Regions from separate parts of the Homo sapiens genome. Here all the other regions are reported to be linked to region 2. The links are microRNA targets in miRTarBase. Many come from high-throughput screens and were not tested one by one. Region 2 holds a microRNA gene; each other region holds the end of a gene's coding sequence.
What was found. Region 2 holds the annotated microRNA hsa-miR-769-3p (CUGGGAUCUCCGGGGUCUUGGUU, at 2,976-2,998, opposite strand). A microRNA usually pairs through its seed, bases 2 to 8, with sites in the 3' UTR of a target mRNA and lowers its output. Matches are read on the target gene's strand: a 7mer-m8 pairs with bases 2 to 8, a 7mer-A1 pairs with bases 2 to 7 and ends in A, and an 8mer does both.

Region 1 (4,158 bases), not on the chromosome of region 2:
TGTTAGAGTAGAAAGAATTGTAAACTCCTTGGTAGGTTTAAGCAGTTATCAAGTACCTTGAATGTGAGTAGTAAATTCTCACCCAAGGGCAAGGGTAGACCTTTTGAGATAGAAAGGGTGGATATTGGGATCCCGGAGCCCCAAATCCCCTGAGGTTGTCTTGGTGAGAGTGCCACGGGGTACCCTGTTTCTGGCAGGTTTTTCTTGGTGTTTGGGCAGCATGGTGCATCTCCCATGGTGTGAGCGTGGCTGGGAGCCCTCTTGGCTGTTACTACATCCAGCCTTTGTCTCTCCAGGGATGGGGGCCTGAAGAGGGAGAAGGTGAAGGACACGTTCAAGGAGGAGCAGCAGAAGCTGTACAGCAAGATGATCGTGGGGAACCACAAGGACAGGAGCCGCTCCTGAGCCTGCCTCCAGCTGGCTGGGGCCACCGTGCGGGGTGCCAACGGGCTCAGAGCTGGAGTTGCCGCCGCCGCCCCCACTGCTGTGTCCTTTCCAGACTCCAGGGCTCCCCGGGCTGCTCTGGATCCCAGGACTCCGGCTTTCGCCGAGCCGCAGCGGGATCCCTGTGCACCCGGCGCAGCCTACCCTTGGTGGTCTAAACGGATGCTGCTGGGTGTTGCGACCCAGGACGAGATGCCTTGTTTCTTTTACAATAAGTCGTTGGAGGAATGCCATTAAAGTGAACTCCCCACCTTTGCACGCTGTGCGGGCTGAGTGGTTGGGGAGATGTGGCCATGGTCTTGTGCTAGAGATGGCGGTACAAGAGTCTGTTATGCAAGCCCGTGTGCCAGGGATGTGCTGGGGGCGGCCACCCGCTCTCCAGGAAAGGCACAGCTGAGGCACTGTGGCTGGCTTCGGCCTCAACATCGCCCCCAGCCTTGGAGCTCTGCAGACATGATAGGAAGGAAACTGTCATCTGCAGGGGCTTTCAGCAAAATGAAGGGTTAGATTTTTATGCTGCTGCTGATGGGGTTACTAAAGGGAGGGGAAGAGGCCAGGTGGGCCGCTGACTGGGCCATGGGGAGAACGTGTGTTCGTACTCCAGGCTAACCCTGAACTCCCCATGTGATGCGCGCTTTGTTGAATGTGTGTCTCGGTTTCCCCATCTGTAATATGAGTCGGGGGGAATGGTGGTGATTCCTACCTCACAGGGCTGTTGTGGGGATTAAAGTGCTGCGGGTGAGTGAAGGACACATCACGTTCAGTGTTTCAAGTACAGGCCCACAAAACGGGGCACGGCAGGCCTGAGCTCAGAGCTGCTGCACTGGGCTTTGGATTTGTTCTTGTGAGTAAATAAAACTGGCTGGTGAATGAACTGGGGGACTTCTCCCTTTACTTTCTCCCCTGGCTGTGGCCCTGAGTAGCAGGCTTCTCGTGAGGATTCCCGTTCTCTTCTGGGAGCATGGCCCTGGGGCTGCGGAGAAGCCAACTGACTGCTGGAGCGAGGAACCCTGCAGCTCAGAAGGTGAACAGCTCGTCTCAGATGCTTGCAGATCTTTGGTTAATTTAGAATTTCCAGCACAGACGTGGATTTCTCCAGAGACGGGGTGTGTGCGGGTCGCTGATGTGAGGCCTAGGGGAAGCAATGAGTAAACTCCAGGGTGGGGGAGGAGCAAGGGCCCGGGGAGGGCTGCAGAGGGGCCGGGGCGGGGCAGGGCCTGTGCTGCATGGTGGCTTCTGCAGGGGAGGGACAGGGGAGGGCTGCAGAGGGGCAGGGTGGGCAGGGCATGTGCTGCATGGCAGCTTCTGCACAGCCAGAGCAGGCACCACAGGAAAAGAGTCGGCCACTGGTGCCTGCTGTACAGTCACAGTGGAGGCAGAGCCAAGGCCAAGCAGCCCCTGTGGGTTCTGGGGTTTCACCAGTTTCATGCTCCTCAGCTCCCCATTCATGCCCCACCAGCCCTCACTTGGGACCCATGCTCCCTCGTGGCACAGTCATGATGCCTCTCAGGATTTTGTGCCTGTGGTGCTGAGTGTCACGTCCCCAAGGTCGCCCTCTGGCCTGCAGTTCAGGGAGTGGGTGGGAGTGAAGCTGTGCTCCTGGGGCTGCAGACAGATCCACTTTGCATGTGGTACCTGCTGGGTTGGCCCTGCAATCTCCTTTTCTCTGCACCTACCTGTGACCTCCCTGGGAGAGCCTCCCATTTCCTCACCTGCCCTGTTGCCAGCCCGGGGGAAATCTTTTTGCTCTCAAATGAAGACTGAAAAAATAAAGTCAGTGTTATGACTAATAAGTCTCTTAGGAACTGTTTTACAAAATGCTTAAGAATAAAAAGTGATTTTCAGCTTTTATAGGTGATGTTTACAGTGTTTGTAAACCAACTGGAGGGATCAGTAATTGGTCTTAAAAGATCAGGTTCTCTTTTAAAAAGTTCATCTGAAACTTTATGGTTTGTTACTTTCGTGATTTGCATAGGTATTTATATATACACACACACACAGGTTTTGCTTTTGTCTCACATTCAGCACAGCTGTCTGCGGCCCCTGCCGGCAGGTGTGGCCGCACCTGGTGTGAAGTCACGTGGAGTCAGTGCTGTGGAGGGAAGTCCTGTGCGGGCCGGGCAGTGAGGAGAGCACTGATTCACGCCTGCAGAAACGTAACCTCCCCTTTCCGTGTATGCCTTTTACCATCATCCAGGCGACTGCTCCATCCTTTTAAATTAGGGGTCCTGCAAGCCCCAAGTGACCCATAGTCAGAGTATCTGGTTTGGGGTAACCGAGTTGGTCTTATGGGGCAAAAACTCAAGACACTTAGAAACATGCAAAGTACAAAATAATGTGTTCCCTCCTGTTACCCCAGCAAGGGTGGGGCTGAGCTGGGAATGACACCCAGTGGTGTAATGAGTGGAAAGTGCTGGTCAGCTGCTAACCCCCCTCCAAGCCTGCTGCACCTTCACTTCTCTGCATCCGTCTCCTGAGTCATAACTAGGGACTTGGCTAGATGACCTCAGAGACCTCGTCCACCTCTGAATTCTCTGTTTTTAAGCCCATAGTTCAAACTTTGGCTTTGATCTCTGAAGTCTTCTGGGTTTGGAAATACGGGAAGTCAGCTTTGAATCCATTGCTTCTCTAAAACATCAGGGCTAGTGGAACTAACCCACTTGAGGGTGACCTCAAGGGCTTTAGGCAGCCATGGGGCTGGGGCCATACTGCTCTCAGGCTGGGCAGTATCTTCATTGTGGTTCTCAGACAGCCTTTTTTACTCAAACATGAGACTTTCCACCCACCAGTTAGGGAACTTTTTTTTTTTTTTTAAACACGGAGTTTCACTCTTGTTGCCCATGCTGGAGTGCAATGGCACAATCTCAGCTCCACTGCAACCTCTACCTCCCGGGTTCAAGTGATTCTTCTGCCTCAGCCTCCAAGTAGCTGAGATTACAGGCATGCACCACCACACCCAGCTAATTTTTTGTATTTAGTAGAGACTGGGTTTCACCATGTTGGTCAGGCTGGTCTCCAACTCCTGACCTCAGGTGATCCACTCTCCTTGGCCTCCCAAAGTTCTGGGATTACAGGCGTGAGCCACTGCGCCCAGCCAAGAGGGAACTTTTTAATAAAGCTAGTGGGATTCCCTTGACAGCAGAACCAGCCTTGGGACTTGATGCTTCACCGTGTCAGAATCCGTCCCTGGTGCTGCCTTTCAGAGAAGAGGCTTGATGTGTGAGGGGTCAGGGGGAGTGCTCCAGATCCCTGAAATGCCCTTCCCAGACCAGTGACAGGCATTTTTGGGTGCCATCGTGTGACCTTCACGGCACAGCAAACAGTGGGCACTAACCCTGTTGTCCTGTGGAAATCTGGGTCTCTGAATCCTGCCATTTCCTTCCTGGAATTGGCCAGGAACTTGATTTTCTGGGCTATTGCTTGCTAGTGTCCCCTGATGCATGAAGGATCCCCCCATGTCATAGGTCCCACCTGCCTGCTGTGCATCCCGGGTGGCCAGACTCGGCTTCTCCAGGTGCACTTGTCCCAGGTGGCCCGGTCCGTAGGCTGGAAGGGCAGCTGCAGGTGCACTGCCTCGCGGACAGGTTAGGATATGGCCACGCAGCCATCCATCTTCTACAGCACGCACACCCCACTCTCTCCCCCAGTCAATATGTCTCTCTCCGATGGGAAAGTTAATAAATTTTGCTCTAGATTAAAAGTATTGATCATTTC
Region 2 (4,158 bases):
CAGACCCACACAGGCTCCTTGGAAGGGTGGGGCAAGGGAAAGCCTCCCTGAGAGTGGCTGCCTTGGCTCTGGGATGGGGGAGCAGACAGAGGCCTGCAGGTGGCAGGGGGTGCTGGGGGCAAAGCCAACGGGGTTGAGTGGGCGGGTCCTGTGGGAAGGACAGGGTGGCTGAACACAGCCGGGCGAGCGGAATGAAATGAGGAAAGGGCAGGACCAGGCAGGGCTTTGTGGACCACAGTGAGGACTGTAGCTTTTACTCCGAGATGGGAGCCATGGGAGGCTTCCCCCCGCAGAGCAGGGACCAGGGCTAGTGTAGGTACAAGAGACTCCCTCTGGCTGCTGTGGGGAGAACAGACTGTAAGGGGTGCCGGCTGAAGCAGGCTGAAGCAGGTCCGGGGCCACGCCTACCAGCTACCTCCTCCTTAGAATGGGCTGCAGTCCAGCCTGACGGTTTCCACAGGGAGGGAACTTTCAATCCTGCAGGCTCTCAGACCCAGGTAAGCATCAGAATCTCCTGCAGAGCTTATTGGAGGAACATGCAGGTCCCCAGAGACCACTTCAATAGACCCCACCCAGGGGACACATGTTCTCAGGACCTCCTAAGGCTGTGTCTCACACACACACACACACAAAACCCACCCAGAGAAGTCTAGAAGTGTCCAAAGGTATTCCCAGCCCTTCCAGTTCAAGATTTTATCAAAGACTCCAACTTCAACATTTTGTTTCCAAGACTCAGGCGCTCTGATCCTAAGTGTTCCCATGAGGTCACGAAGGCCCGAGCCTCGGGTCCACATCACCACATACAGAAGCAGCCGCTGTCTGGCCCTCAGCTTTTAGGATTCCGAATCTGGTTCTAACGTTCTGAATCCCCTTTCCATGTCACGTCACCTTCTCTCTCTGAGCCTCGTTTCTTCACCTGTAAATGGGGCTTCTGACTGTACCCGCTTGGCGATGGTGGCTGAGGTTTCAATGAGATGCATTCATGCAACAAATGACCAGGGAGAACCAACCACCCCCGACCCCAGCACCATCATGCCAGGCTCCGGGAATATGGCAGGGCCATAACCAGCCAGTCCCAGCAGCCAGCATCACCAGCAGGGCCATAACCAGCCAGTCCCAGCAGCCAGCATCACTGGGGCCAGATTCTGGGAGCTGGCTTCCTAAGCAGCAGATTCGGGACTCAAGATTCGGAAGTTCCGACATTCTGTGCGTCATTAATGACACTGTGAGCGCGGGGGCTGAGTTGGCACATACTGCAGCTCCAAGGCACTGATCTTCTAGTTCATTCCCATTTGCCAAGTCAGACACGCTCAATCAGATGTGCTGAATGAATCAGCCTTAAGGATCTGCTGCCAGGCTTGGGAACCTCAAAGAGGCAGGTGCTGGGGCTCCAGGGTCGGTATCTGGTTACGACCCCAACTTTGAGTCTGTGATCCTGTCCCCCAGTGGACCCCGAGGGCAGGAAGCAAGCTGGGGCAAAGGCAGAGTTCTGAGAGGCAGGGGGCTCTGAGTAGCTTGTACAAATTATGTCGCTTTCTGAGTCTCTGCTCTCTCTGCTTAAGATGAGGATGATAAGAGTCCCTGCCTTGGCTGGGCACGGTGACTCATGCTTGTAATCCCAGCACTTTGGGAGGCCAAAGGCGGGCAGATCACCTGAGGTCGGGAGTTCGAGACCAGCCTGGCCAACATGGTGAAACCCCATCTCTACTAATAATACAAAAATTAGCCGGGTGTGGTGGCTCATGCTTGTAATCCCAGGTACTCAGGAGGCTGAGGCACGAGAATCACTTGAACCCAGGAGGCAGAGGTTGCGGTGAGCTGAGATCACGCCACTGCACTCCAGCCTGAGCAACAAGAGTGAAACCCCGTCTTAAAAAAAAAAAAAAAAAAAAGTCTCTGCCTCAGAGGGCTGTCCTGCAAGGATTCAGTAAAACAGGACTTCCACAAATCCTCTAGGGAGGCAGGAGAGAGCAACGCACAAGATCACATGGGTGGGGACCATGGAGGCCTGGTTAAAAACCCCAGCTGTGCCCCAGACAGGCTGTGTGACCCCGGGGCAGGTGATTCTACCGCTCTGATTCTGTCTATATAAAACGGGGGTGATAGTGACTCACAGGGTTGCTGTGAGGATGGAAAAAGGTGTATGCAGAGCTGTGCTTGGCACATGGCAGGGGCCCAATAAATGACCACAGTCATTGTTACTATCGTGGGAAATTAACGGGTGAGAAGGATGCTGGGGAAGTTGTGTGCACCACGGCAGTAACGGAGGCAGGGTGAGTGGAGGAAGGAGGAGGAGTCCTCCTCGGGAAACCCTCCCTCACTCATCAAGCCCCCCCACCTCCCCATGCAGCTTCCTGATTGGAGAAGACGGGCTCGTATACGAGGGCCGTGGCTGGAACTTCACGGGTGCCCACTCAGGTCACTTATGGAACCCCATGTCCATTGGCATCAGCTTCATGGGCAACTACATGGGTGAGTGACTGTCCAGCCAGTTGGGATGGGGGCTGACACGGGGCCCTACGCTATCACTTCCCCTTCGGGGAAGCCCCTGCCTGACTCCTACCTCTGCCTCCTCCAGATCGGGTGCCCACACCCCAGGCCATCCGGGCAGCCCAGGGTCTACTGGCCTGCGGTGTGGCTCAGGGAGCCCTGAGGTCCAACTATGTGCTCAAAGGACACCGGGATGTGCAGCGTACACTCTCTCCAGGCAACCAGCTCTACCACCTCATCCAGAATTGGCCACACTACCGCTCCCCCTGAGGCCCTGCTGATCCGCACCCCATTCCTCCCCTCCCATGGCCAAAAACCCCACTGTCTCCTTCTCCAATAAAGATGTAGCTCAAAATGTGTTCCTCAGCAGGTCCCACCACACACCTCCCCTCCTTCTCTCCCTCCCACAAGACCAAAGCCCTCCCACCCCTTCCCCTCCCAGCACTCTCCTCACTGGTGCTTGGAACCCAGAGGCCCCGGCCCTGAACCAAGACCCCGGAGATCCCAGCTCGAGAGCAACATCACAGCTCAGAACCCAGAGGTCTCAGGTCAGAGCCCAGGAATCAGCACCAAGGCGGCCGGGATGTCACCAACAGTGGGTCCTGGGGGTCCTCCTGGGCAGTGAACCACGCTGCAAGACACCTCCTTCCCACCACACAGCCAAAGGCATCCTGCGCAGAAACTTTGCTTGGACTCCTTTAGGGACGGGCTGCTCACTACTCCTCCCAGGTCTGCCCTTGCACTGTTTAGAGAGTGTACAAGCTTTTCCTAGGCCTGAGTCCCAATCTGCCTCCGAGGCACAGACACACAGGTCCCAATTATACCCCCCAATTTCTCTTCCTCCACATTTCTCCCCACTCCACCCTCACCCTTTAGTCATAAGCTGAGGGGTCCCCAGGGCAAATATGTTTATTTACAAAATGCACACATCCTCCCTCCCAGCATGCACTGCCTGGGGAGAGGGCAGGGTCAGGGCCTCACACACCTGAGACCCCAGGGGCAGCAGGAGGGACGGGGCCAGGGCAGGGACTGGGCAGGGCTGGAGGCCACCCTGGCCCCACCCCCCACACCATACCCAGCAAGTGGGTGGGGGATGGAGGGGTAGTACCCCTTCTCCACGTTATGACCGCATGTCCAGTCGGTTCATGTACTCCTGCAAGGCCTTCAGGCGTGCGTCTATTTCGGCCATGTCAGCCGCCTGGTGCTCCGAGCTGTACTCTGTGAGAGCAGGTGTGGGTATGGGGGCTGTGAGGGGCCTGAAGCCCCAGGGAGTTCCTGGGCCCAATATACCACTGCCCGCACTACCATTCCAACGGGTCCTGGGGCTGGGAGAGGGGATGTGGAGTCCCAGGCTCACCTTTGATGGGGACCCAGCCCCCGGAGTTGGCCAGAGATTTCTGATGGTGGCTGCGTTCCACGGGGGGAGACTTCTGGTGATGGGGAAGGTAGGAAAGGGGGTCACCCACCGTCCCTCTATTTCTGTCCCCCTAAATCCCACTGGAAATCCTGAGCCTAAGGACCTTGGGGAAAAATAAGGCCTGACACCTACTGGCCATTCATTATCTGCAAAATAACCTCCTAATGTCCTCACAGAGCCCTCACCTCACATGTGAGGTGATGCCATTACCAACCCTGGTTAACTGATAAACAAAAACTAAGGTACAGAGA
Region 3 (4,158 bases), not on the chromosome of region 2:
GCCCCGGCGCAGGTAGGGAGAGGCCCTCCTTACCTCGGTCATCAGGCGGTCGGCTCCACTGTTCTCCTCATCCTTGAAGATGATGTCGGGGTTGTAGTTGGGCACGAGGTCCCGGAAGCGCTCGGAGCCCCTTGCCACCCTCCCCTCCGCTGGCCCACTGGCGCCCAGGGTCCGCTCTGGCACGCCGGGCACAAATTGCTTGTAGAGTAGCGGCACGAGCTGCTTGCGCGCATAGCGGCGCCGGCCAACCGGCCCCCGGCCCGGCCCGCAGCTCTGGGCTGGCAGCGCCAGAAGTGCCAAGCAGCACAGGGGCAGTAGATTGGTCAGGAGAGCCATGGATACAGCGGACCTCGGCCAAAAGGGAGCGTTCTTGTCCTCACTAACTCTCCTGTCAGTTAGGCATCTCCACAGGCACCAGAGAGGGCAGCAGGCACAGCTGCCCCCAGAGTGCCCTAGAGCTCTTGTGGCTCCGTGCACCTGGCTGCTGCTAGCTCTGCCCACGTGCCCCGGGAGCGGGCGGGGGGTGTCTAGGACCTGCTACTGACAAACCATCATAGCAGGGAAGGGGGGTCGTGGGTGAGTGCCAGCCCAGCCCGTCTCTGCTGCAGGACTCTGGTGCTGCCAGAACGCCCGGACTCCGGACTCCGCCTTAAGTGGCCCCTGGCCCCGCCCTCCGCCCTTCTCCCAAGACCGTCCCACCCCCTCCCACCCGGGCGGGGGATCTAGCCGGTCACTGCTGGTCCATTTTGCGACTGAAGTGTGTCCCATCCTGGAAACCAGGCAGACACCTGCCTAGGAAATACTTGTAGCTTTACAGTCCTTGGCTGCCTAAACATCCTTCTACCTCCAAGCTTAAACTTGGAACCAAACCACCCTCCTCTGATACTTGAATTGGAATTTTTACTCTCTCAAAGCCTACCCTGGCAGGCCATGCCCTCCGCTGTCATCCAGGAAGTATGGGTTCCAATTTCTGCCCAAGACCAGCCAAGCCCTTTGGGCATACAACCAGAGCCTCCCTTCTCTGTAGTCCTCCCCAGATCTCCCCGACTTCCATCTCTCCTCACATTCAGCATTAAGCAGGACTGGGAGGTGAGGATACCAGGGGCCCATTTCTCTACTAACTTTGCAGTCTCCTTTGGAACTTCCCCAGAACCAGGAACAGAGCTTGGTACTTATTGTCTCATTTAGGACTTCCAACTTTTTTCCCCTTCTCTTCTTTGCCAGGCATCTAATAGCTGCTGTTTTTCAAATGAATGACTTCTCAGTTGGAAGCTGCTGAAGGGCAGTGGACACTCAAAAGTCTTTGTAAGAGGTGAGGATCACTTCCCTTAACCGTCCATCTAGGCACCTCTCCAGCTTTCTCCCTCTCTGGACTCCCGGGGCTCCATTTTCAGCCACTCAGATCTCATCTCAGAGGCACCACGTCCAATTTCTTTTGTTTAGAAGTCATTTCTTCTAAGAAGCCTTCCTTGATGTCCCAACACTGCCCACCTGTGTTCCCTCGAGAACCATTACTTAACTGCAGTGTTAGAACAGTATTAGAATTATCTGGCACCTTACTAGACAAAGCAATCTTAAGCACACACATATTTATCATGTATCTCCAAGGTTAAGTGCCTACTCTACAGAAGGGTGCTTTGCAAGCATTTGTGGAATCTACACTTTGTGTTTCATATTCACCCTCCCCTCACCACACTCTATGGCTAGTACTCATAGCAACTTTGTGTACATCAGAAAAAACCAGGCCAGGCACAGTGGCTCACTCCTGTAATCCCAACACTTTGGGGGCGAGGCAAGGACTGCTTGAGGCCATGAGTTGAAGACCAACTTGGTCAACATAGTGACACCCCGTTTCAAAAAAAAAAAATTAATTAGTGGGAGGTAGTGGTACATGCCTGTAGTCTTAGGTACTCAGGAGGCTGAGGAAGGAGGATCACTTGGGTGCAAGAGTTCAAGGCTGTAGAGTGAGCTAAGATCATGCCACTGCACTCTAACCTGGGTGACAGAGTGAGGACCCCCCCCCCCAAAAAAAAGATGGCTGGGTGTTGTGGCTAACCCCTGTAATTCCATCATTTGGGGAGTCCAAGGTAGGTGGATCACTTGAGCTCAGGAGTTCAAGACCAGCCCAGGCAACATGGCAAAACCCCATCTCTACTAAAAATACAAAAATTAGCCAGGCATGGTAGCATGTGTCTGTTGTCCTAGCTATTCTGGAGCCTGAGCTGGAAGAATGGCTTGAGCCCAGAATGCGGAGGTTGCAGTGAGCTGAGATTGCACCACTGCACTCCAGCCAGGGTGATAGAGCCAGACCTTGTCTCACAAAAAAAAAAAAAAAAAAAAGAAGAAGAAAAAAGAAAAAAAAAGCACCCCTTCCTCAAGATGACTGACATTTATTAGAAAACTATCATAGTAACTATCCACACAATGACTATGAGGTGAATGGTGTCCCTGGAAGCTGTGCAATACACAATCTGTATAAGCCTAAGTTTTGCGCTCTTACTCCCAACATAGCACATGGGCTTTTCAAGAAACTGATGGCCTCTAGTAAAAAGCTAGATTCTTCTCTCAGGTAGGAAATGAAAATCCTTGTCAGCCAGCCACTTATTTTACTCTATATCCAATAGTTAAGCCAGGGAGGATAGGGCTGAAGGTATGAGTGTATCGGGGAGGTTAGCCTACTCCTATGCCCATGTCCTACCCCCAATACTCAAGGTACAGAAACAAGGCCATGAATATAAGGAGGAGTCAGGGGACAAGCCAGCTTTAAGCAAGACTGAGGATGGAGGAGTTTCCCACTGCCCAACTGCATGGCCTAACACCAGATCCAAGTCCCCAAAGGATGGTAATAATATAGATGAAGGGGAAGGAAAAGGATGGTGGGCAGGACCCCTCTGCTTCTCTTACTGGGCAGACGCCGGGCTGGTGGGAGCAAGGCTGTTCAAATATACACAGAGACAGGTGCTTTAAAAAAACAAAGCAAACCCTGGGATCAACTTTATTGCTGATGGCTGAAGCCTCCTCCTCCCTATCCCCTTGGTCTTTCAGGTGGTCCAAAGCCCCTCCAGGATAGCACAGTGCTTAGGCTCTGCTGGGCCAGAGGCAAGGGAGACAATCTATCTCCCGAGCCTGCCCTGGCCCAGTCCTTTCCCTGCCCCTACCCCACCCTATTGCACATCAAATCATGTAAACATGGCTATGGGGATGGCCCAGAACAGCAGTGAGGCAGATTGATGTGTAAACAGATTTGGGATCAGGGGCTAGACCCAGTCACCCAGCCCTACCCCATGCTGAGGCCACAGTTAAGTATGGAAAAGCAGGAGGTCCTGGTCCCAAACTCTGGCTCAGATTATGCAATAGTGCAGATGGCTCTGCTCCCCTCTGCCACCCACCCTCTCAGATTCCAGGTCCTGAGGTCCAAGTAGCCTTGGGCTTCCCTCCAGGCCTAGGCAGCAGATGGCAGTGTCCAGTTTTTTCCTTCCCACCCCCAGCTGGAGGTCACTGGTGCTGGGTCTTCCTAGATGCCTGGGGGAAACCGGAGACGGGCAGCGGCAGTCTGTCCAGCCCTGGAGAAGAGGAGATGGGCAGTCAAAAGCAAGTCAAAGGTCCAGTCCGTTAGGGACCAGGCAGCCAAGCCACAGAATGTGTGGATGAGGTACGTTACCCACAAAGCAGGAAGCACACCCTCTCCCCTGCTGGGGTGATCCATGTTCCAGAGTGTCCTAGATGATTACCACCCCCCACTAGCCTGCACCCTCACTCCCTCTCACCAAAGGCCCGGATCAGCTCTGCCCGCACAGCTGCAGTGAAGGTCTTCACCAGACAGAGTGTGGTGAGGCCTGCAAAGGCTGCGTTGTAGAGGAACACAATGTAGAAATTGCCCAGCCAGTTGAAGCGTCCAAAGTCACCCAGCAGGTCAAAGCGAGTGAGCCCTGAAGCACAAAGGCCAGGATGAGAGGTGGGCTCCCCAGGCCCTTTTCTGCTACCAGCCCAACTTTCTGCTGCCTCCTGGTGGCCACATTTCAACACTGCAACTGATAGGTTGGCCTCTCCCAATTCTACCACCCAAGCTGTCTCAAGAGCAGTTCGGGACTGTTCTAAGTGCCAGCAGCTAGGCTTGCTTCAACTTCGCTTCCAGAGTCTGGTATCTTCTCCTCCAGT
Region 4 (4,137 bases), not on the chromosome of region 2:
ATCTGCCGCCCTGGGCCGGGCGAGCCCTTGCCCCGATTATGTTTGGGGACCTCCGCCACTCTCAGGATGTGATGGTGGTGGGGGAGCCCACCCTGATGGGCGGGGAGTTCGGGGACGAGGACGAGAGGCTCATCACCCGGCTGGAGAACACCCAGTTTGACGCAGCCAACGGCATTGACGACGAGGACAGCTTTAACAACTCCCCTGCACTGGGCGCCAACAGCCCCTGGAACAGCAAGCCTCCGTCCAGCCAAGAAAGCAAATCGGAGAACCCCACGTCACAGGCCTCCCAGTAAAAGGCCCTGCTGTGGCCACCCAGTGCTCTGCCTACCTGCCCCACCCCTCACAGCCCCAGGGAGCAGAAGACAGAATGAAGAGACTGAGCATCTAAAATGGGCAGCCTCCATCCACCCGCTTCAGGGAGGAACTGGACTCTCTGGGGGCAGGTGCCAAGATTTGCCCCCCCAGTGGCCCTGGGCTGGGCCTGGCCTCTACAGAGCCTTTTAGGGGGAGGGGGTACTCATGTGGATGCCTACTTGGAACCTGGGCCTCTGAGACATGTCCTGACCACCCCCCAGGGCATTTGCCTCCATCTTCACCCCAGATTGTGGGTTTCCCATCCCCCTGACTTTACCCCTTTCAAGCCTGGGGTTGTCTATACCCACAGCCCTTAGGGACTTAAAGTTACGGGGCTTCGTTGAATGCTCCTTCCCCTAGGCAGCTGGTAATAGAGGGGTAAAGCTCTGGGCCCCTCCTCCCTGCTGCCACTTATCCCAGCTCCAAGTTTTTTTAAAAATAATATTATTAAAAATGTAAGTTAAAAAAAAAATCACTCATGTCCCCCCCTCTTCCCCCTATTAAAAGTCCAGCTACCTCCCTACTCTTGGCAGATGGGGGCCTAGGGCCTAGGTGGGGGTGAGAGTGGGGGAGGGAGGTGTGCATACCATTTTATATGGTGTGAGAGCTTCAGACCAAGGAGACATTTCACCATCTCTCCCCCTTTCCTCTGGGGTGACTGCAGTTGAGGAAAGCATGCCATGGGGTAGGGGGACATTGGTGGCCACATTTTGGTGACAGACCCCTGCTGTTGTCTCTGTGTCCCCATTCTCTGGACTCTGGCCTGCCCTCCTAGTGCTTGTGACTCCCTCTCTTCCAGCCCCACCCCCATGGTATGTATATTCCTTACAAGTCCTCCACAAGAGCAGCTGTCTAGGATGCGGGGAGGGGAGGCTCCTTCCCTTAGGGAGCGTGGAGAGAAGGGAGCAGCCTTGTTGCTGTATTTTTGGTTTTGTTTCAGTTGGGCAGGCATGGGATGGGAGAGGGGCTCAGCCACTTTCCTCCAGAATCTTCCCTCAGCCCCTCCAACTGCATATGTAATCCTACTCTGTCCTTCATAGAGGGGAAGGAGCCACAGATGACATCCCAGTTCTAAGCCCACCAGGGAGGAACAGGCCTCTGTCCCCATAGGTGAGGTAGAGGTAGAGGGTCTTCACCTGCCAGTATCCCCTGCCGCTCCTTCCTCACAGAAGGAAGGAGGAGGAGGCAGCCGGGATCCTCGGCTCTGCCAGGGTGCAGCCAGGAGCAGGGTTTCACGCAGCTGGTCCAGCTCTGTGGCTTTGCTGCCTTTTCCTGTGGCCAGTCCCAGGAAGTGCTAACACCACCTCTCTCCCCACTCTTCCCTCTGGATTCTGGGGTCCCCCACACCGTATTTCCTCCACTCCAGCTGCCACTTTTGGAAGGGTATTGAGTCAGGAGCTGAGGGAAGGGGTGAGGAAGGTGGACATCCCATCCCAACTGTAATGCCTTTTTTTTTTTTTTTTTTTTTTTTTTTTTTTTTTTTTTTTTTTGGGCCATTTGAGTCATGTATGGTACCAATCAATAAAGAGACTTTTCGGTTTGAGAGTGTCCTGGTTGGTCATTGATGCCTAATAATGACTCAGTCCAAGGCAATCTTTTCCCCATCCTTGCAGTTCCTAAGACTATGAATTGGATCCCTTCACTCACCTCACATTTCCCCTCACTCTTGAAGTTGTTTCCCTGAATTACACTTCTCCTTCACCCAAGACCCTAAAGTTTGTTCCCAGATGTCCCAGCTTGGCCCCATCTCCCTCAAAAGTTGAGGGAGAGTTGGCTTTCTCAGTCTGCTCCCCACCTCTCACCCCAGGACTGTTGCTTCTCACCCTTAGCTGTCATGGGGCAGCCAGACAGGTGGCCCTCCTGGGGCAGGTTCCTGGGATAGACTGCCTTGGGTTATGCCGTTGAGGGAGGGGTGGGAGAGGGGACTTGGCCCAGGAGGGGGCTTGGGTTAGATGGTCTTGGGGTACTTAGAGTACCTGGGAGACTCCTACCCCTACCCAGCCCCCAGTCTACTAGCCTGGCTGATGTTGGTTGGTTAGTTGGTTTATTTATTTTGAGATGGAGTCTTGCTCCATTACCCAGGCTGGAGGGCAGTGGCATGATCTGAGGTCACTGCAACCTCCACTTCCTGGGTTCAAGTGATTCTCCTGCCTCAGCCTTCCAAGTAGCTGGGATTACAGGTGCCCACCACTATGCCTGGCTAATTTTTGTATTTTTTTTTTTTTTTTTTTTAGTAGAGATAGGGTTTCACCATGTTGGCCAGGCTGGTTTCAAACTCTTGACCTCAGGTGATCCACCCGCCTTGGCCTCTCAAAGTACTAGGATTATAGGCGTGGTCCACTCTGCCCGGTCAGCAGCTGAGGTCTAAATTAGTCTCCCCTGGTGCTAAGGTCCCTGGGTGGGGGATTAAGAGAGTAGCAGGATTGCTACTCTCCAGACTGGGAAGATATGGAGACCCCGCTGTAGATTGGAGATGGGGTCTTAGTGCCCATAAAGCTCCCTATCCAGTGTCCCTCTTTGTCATCCCAGGCAGGGGAAGCTGAGGCCTCAAACTGTTCCCCTCCTAAGTTCTCCCTGGACCTGAAATAAAGCCCGATAGACTGGCACCTCTACCCTCACCTCCCTAGCTGGTAGGAAGACACCAGAGGAAGGGACTGTATGACCTGTCCAATCTCCAATCTACAGTTATCTTGGCCGTGCCCTGCTGCCAGCCCAGCTTCTCATAACCCAGTGCCTCAGGACCCCAAGGAATGCTATTGCACCCCACCCCCAACTCTTCCTTTGTAGATCTGGCCAGCCTGAAGGACATTTACCAGCCAACTGCCACCAGCAACTCACCCTGAGAGTGCCAGGTAACATCTACAGTGGGTCTGTGTCTGGCACTGAGTGTACATCTAGCCCATTAGCCTGAGTGTGTGTGTATGTATGTGCTGCTGAGCTAGGGAGGGCCTGGATCTGTTTATATGTGCAGGTAAGGGAGTATATACATGTGTTTGTATGTGGGCATGTATATGCATATGTTTATGTATGTGTCTGTTGGTTAATTAATTCATTCAAATATTATTCATTGAGCCCTCTTTAGGTACTAGGCCCATTCTAGGTGCTGGGGATATGATGTTGAACAAAGCAGAGAAGATGTGACTGCTGAGTGTGAGTGAAGGCTATAAATCCGTAAATGAGGGTGTGTTGTTAAATGTGTGGCTTAGCAGTGCGACTGTGTTGAGTTATGGGGCTGCTGGGACAGTGGTTGTGTGACTCGGTTGGGTATTTGTAGGTTCACGTCTTGTATGTATATGTTTGTGTATGGAGGGAGATAGTCAAGGGAAAAGGTAGATTGCCAGGCCTGGACCCCATCCTACTTGGGGGCAGGGGGTAGGTCAGAGAAGCAGGAAAACACACTATTGAACTCAGGAAACACAGTGGCCAGCAACTTCCTCTGGAGCCCCATATCTGGCTCCTCCCCATTTGCCCCCAGGAACCCCTGGTGAAGAGGAATTACTGGGGTGAGGGAAGAGAGAGACCCTCCAAAACCCTCATGCCCTTTGTTTTCAGGTACATATGTGGGCCCAGTCCCAAGCCTTAGCACATTGCTGAAGAGCTTTGTGCTGCTGAGCTAGGGAGGGCCTGGATCTGTTTATATGTGCAGGTAAGGCAGTGTATACGTGTGTTTGTATGTAGGCATGTATACGCATATGTTTACGTATGTGTCTGTTGGTGAATTAATTCATTCGGATAGTCTGACCATGTACCCCAGCCAGGGCTTCTGGATCCACAGAGGTC

Region 1: the mRNA of GPAT4 is a reported target of hsa-miR-769-3p. Seed matches in the 3' UTR shown: 7mer-m8 at 526-532.
Region 3: the mRNA of LMBR1L is a reported target of hsa-miR-769-3p. Seed matches in the 3' UTR shown: 8mer at 3,245-3,252 and 7mer-m8 at 2,985-2,991.
Region 4: miRTarBase lists LDB1 as a target of hsa-miR-769-3p. Seed matches in the 3' UTR shown: 7mer-A1 at 1,788-1,794.

What each region holds. Positions count from the first base shown.
Region 1 is chr8:41,620,597-41,624,754 of GRCh38, forward strand. GPAT4 (glycerol-3-phosphate acyltransferase 4) reads left to right here. Exons shown (of 13, transcript NM_178819.4): 13 at 297-4,158. The coding sequence ends at 405. Among named protein-coding and RNA genes, the nearest start is that of NKX6-3, 28 kb to the right of the region's middle. RefSeq lists an enhancer at 2,405-2,504.
Region 2 is chr19:46,017,840-46,021,997 of GRCh38, reverse strand. It overlaps MIR769 (microRNA 769), which reads right to left and starts at 3,066; the gene lies at 2,949-3,066. It overlaps CCDC61 (coiled-coil domain containing 61), which reads right to left. Exons shown (of 14, transcript NM_001267723.2): 13 at 3,848-3,920; 14 at 3,382-3,708. The coding sequence ends at 3,611. It overlaps PGLYRP1 (peptidoglycan recognition protein 1), which reads left to right. Exons shown (of 3, transcript NM_005091.3): 2 at 2,351-2,472; 3 at 2,579-2,845. The coding sequence ends at 2,760. RefSeq lists an enhancer at 1-337.
Region 3 is chr12:49,094,177-49,098,334 of GRCh38, forward strand. It overlaps LMBR1L (limb development membrane protein 1 like), which reads right to left. Exons shown (of 17, transcript NM_018113.4): 16 at 3,768-3,929; 17 at 2,963-3,563. The coding sequence ends at 3,496. It overlaps DHH (desert hedgehog signaling molecule), which reads right to left and starts at 625. Exons shown (of 3, transcript NM_021044.4): 1 at 34-625. The coding sequence starts at 336. It overlaps DHH-AS1 (DHH antisense RNA 1), which reads left to right. Exons shown (of 4, transcript XR_007063295.1): 3 at 1-12; 4 at 1,225-1,568.
Region 4 is chr10:102,104,252-102,108,388 of GRCh38, reverse strand. LDB1 (LIM domain binding 1) reads left to right here. Exons shown (of 11, transcript NM_001113407.3): 11 at 66-1,900. The coding sequence ends at 296. Among named protein-coding and RNA genes, the nearest start is that of LDB1, 14 kb to the left of the region's middle. RefSeq lists an enhancer at 368-869.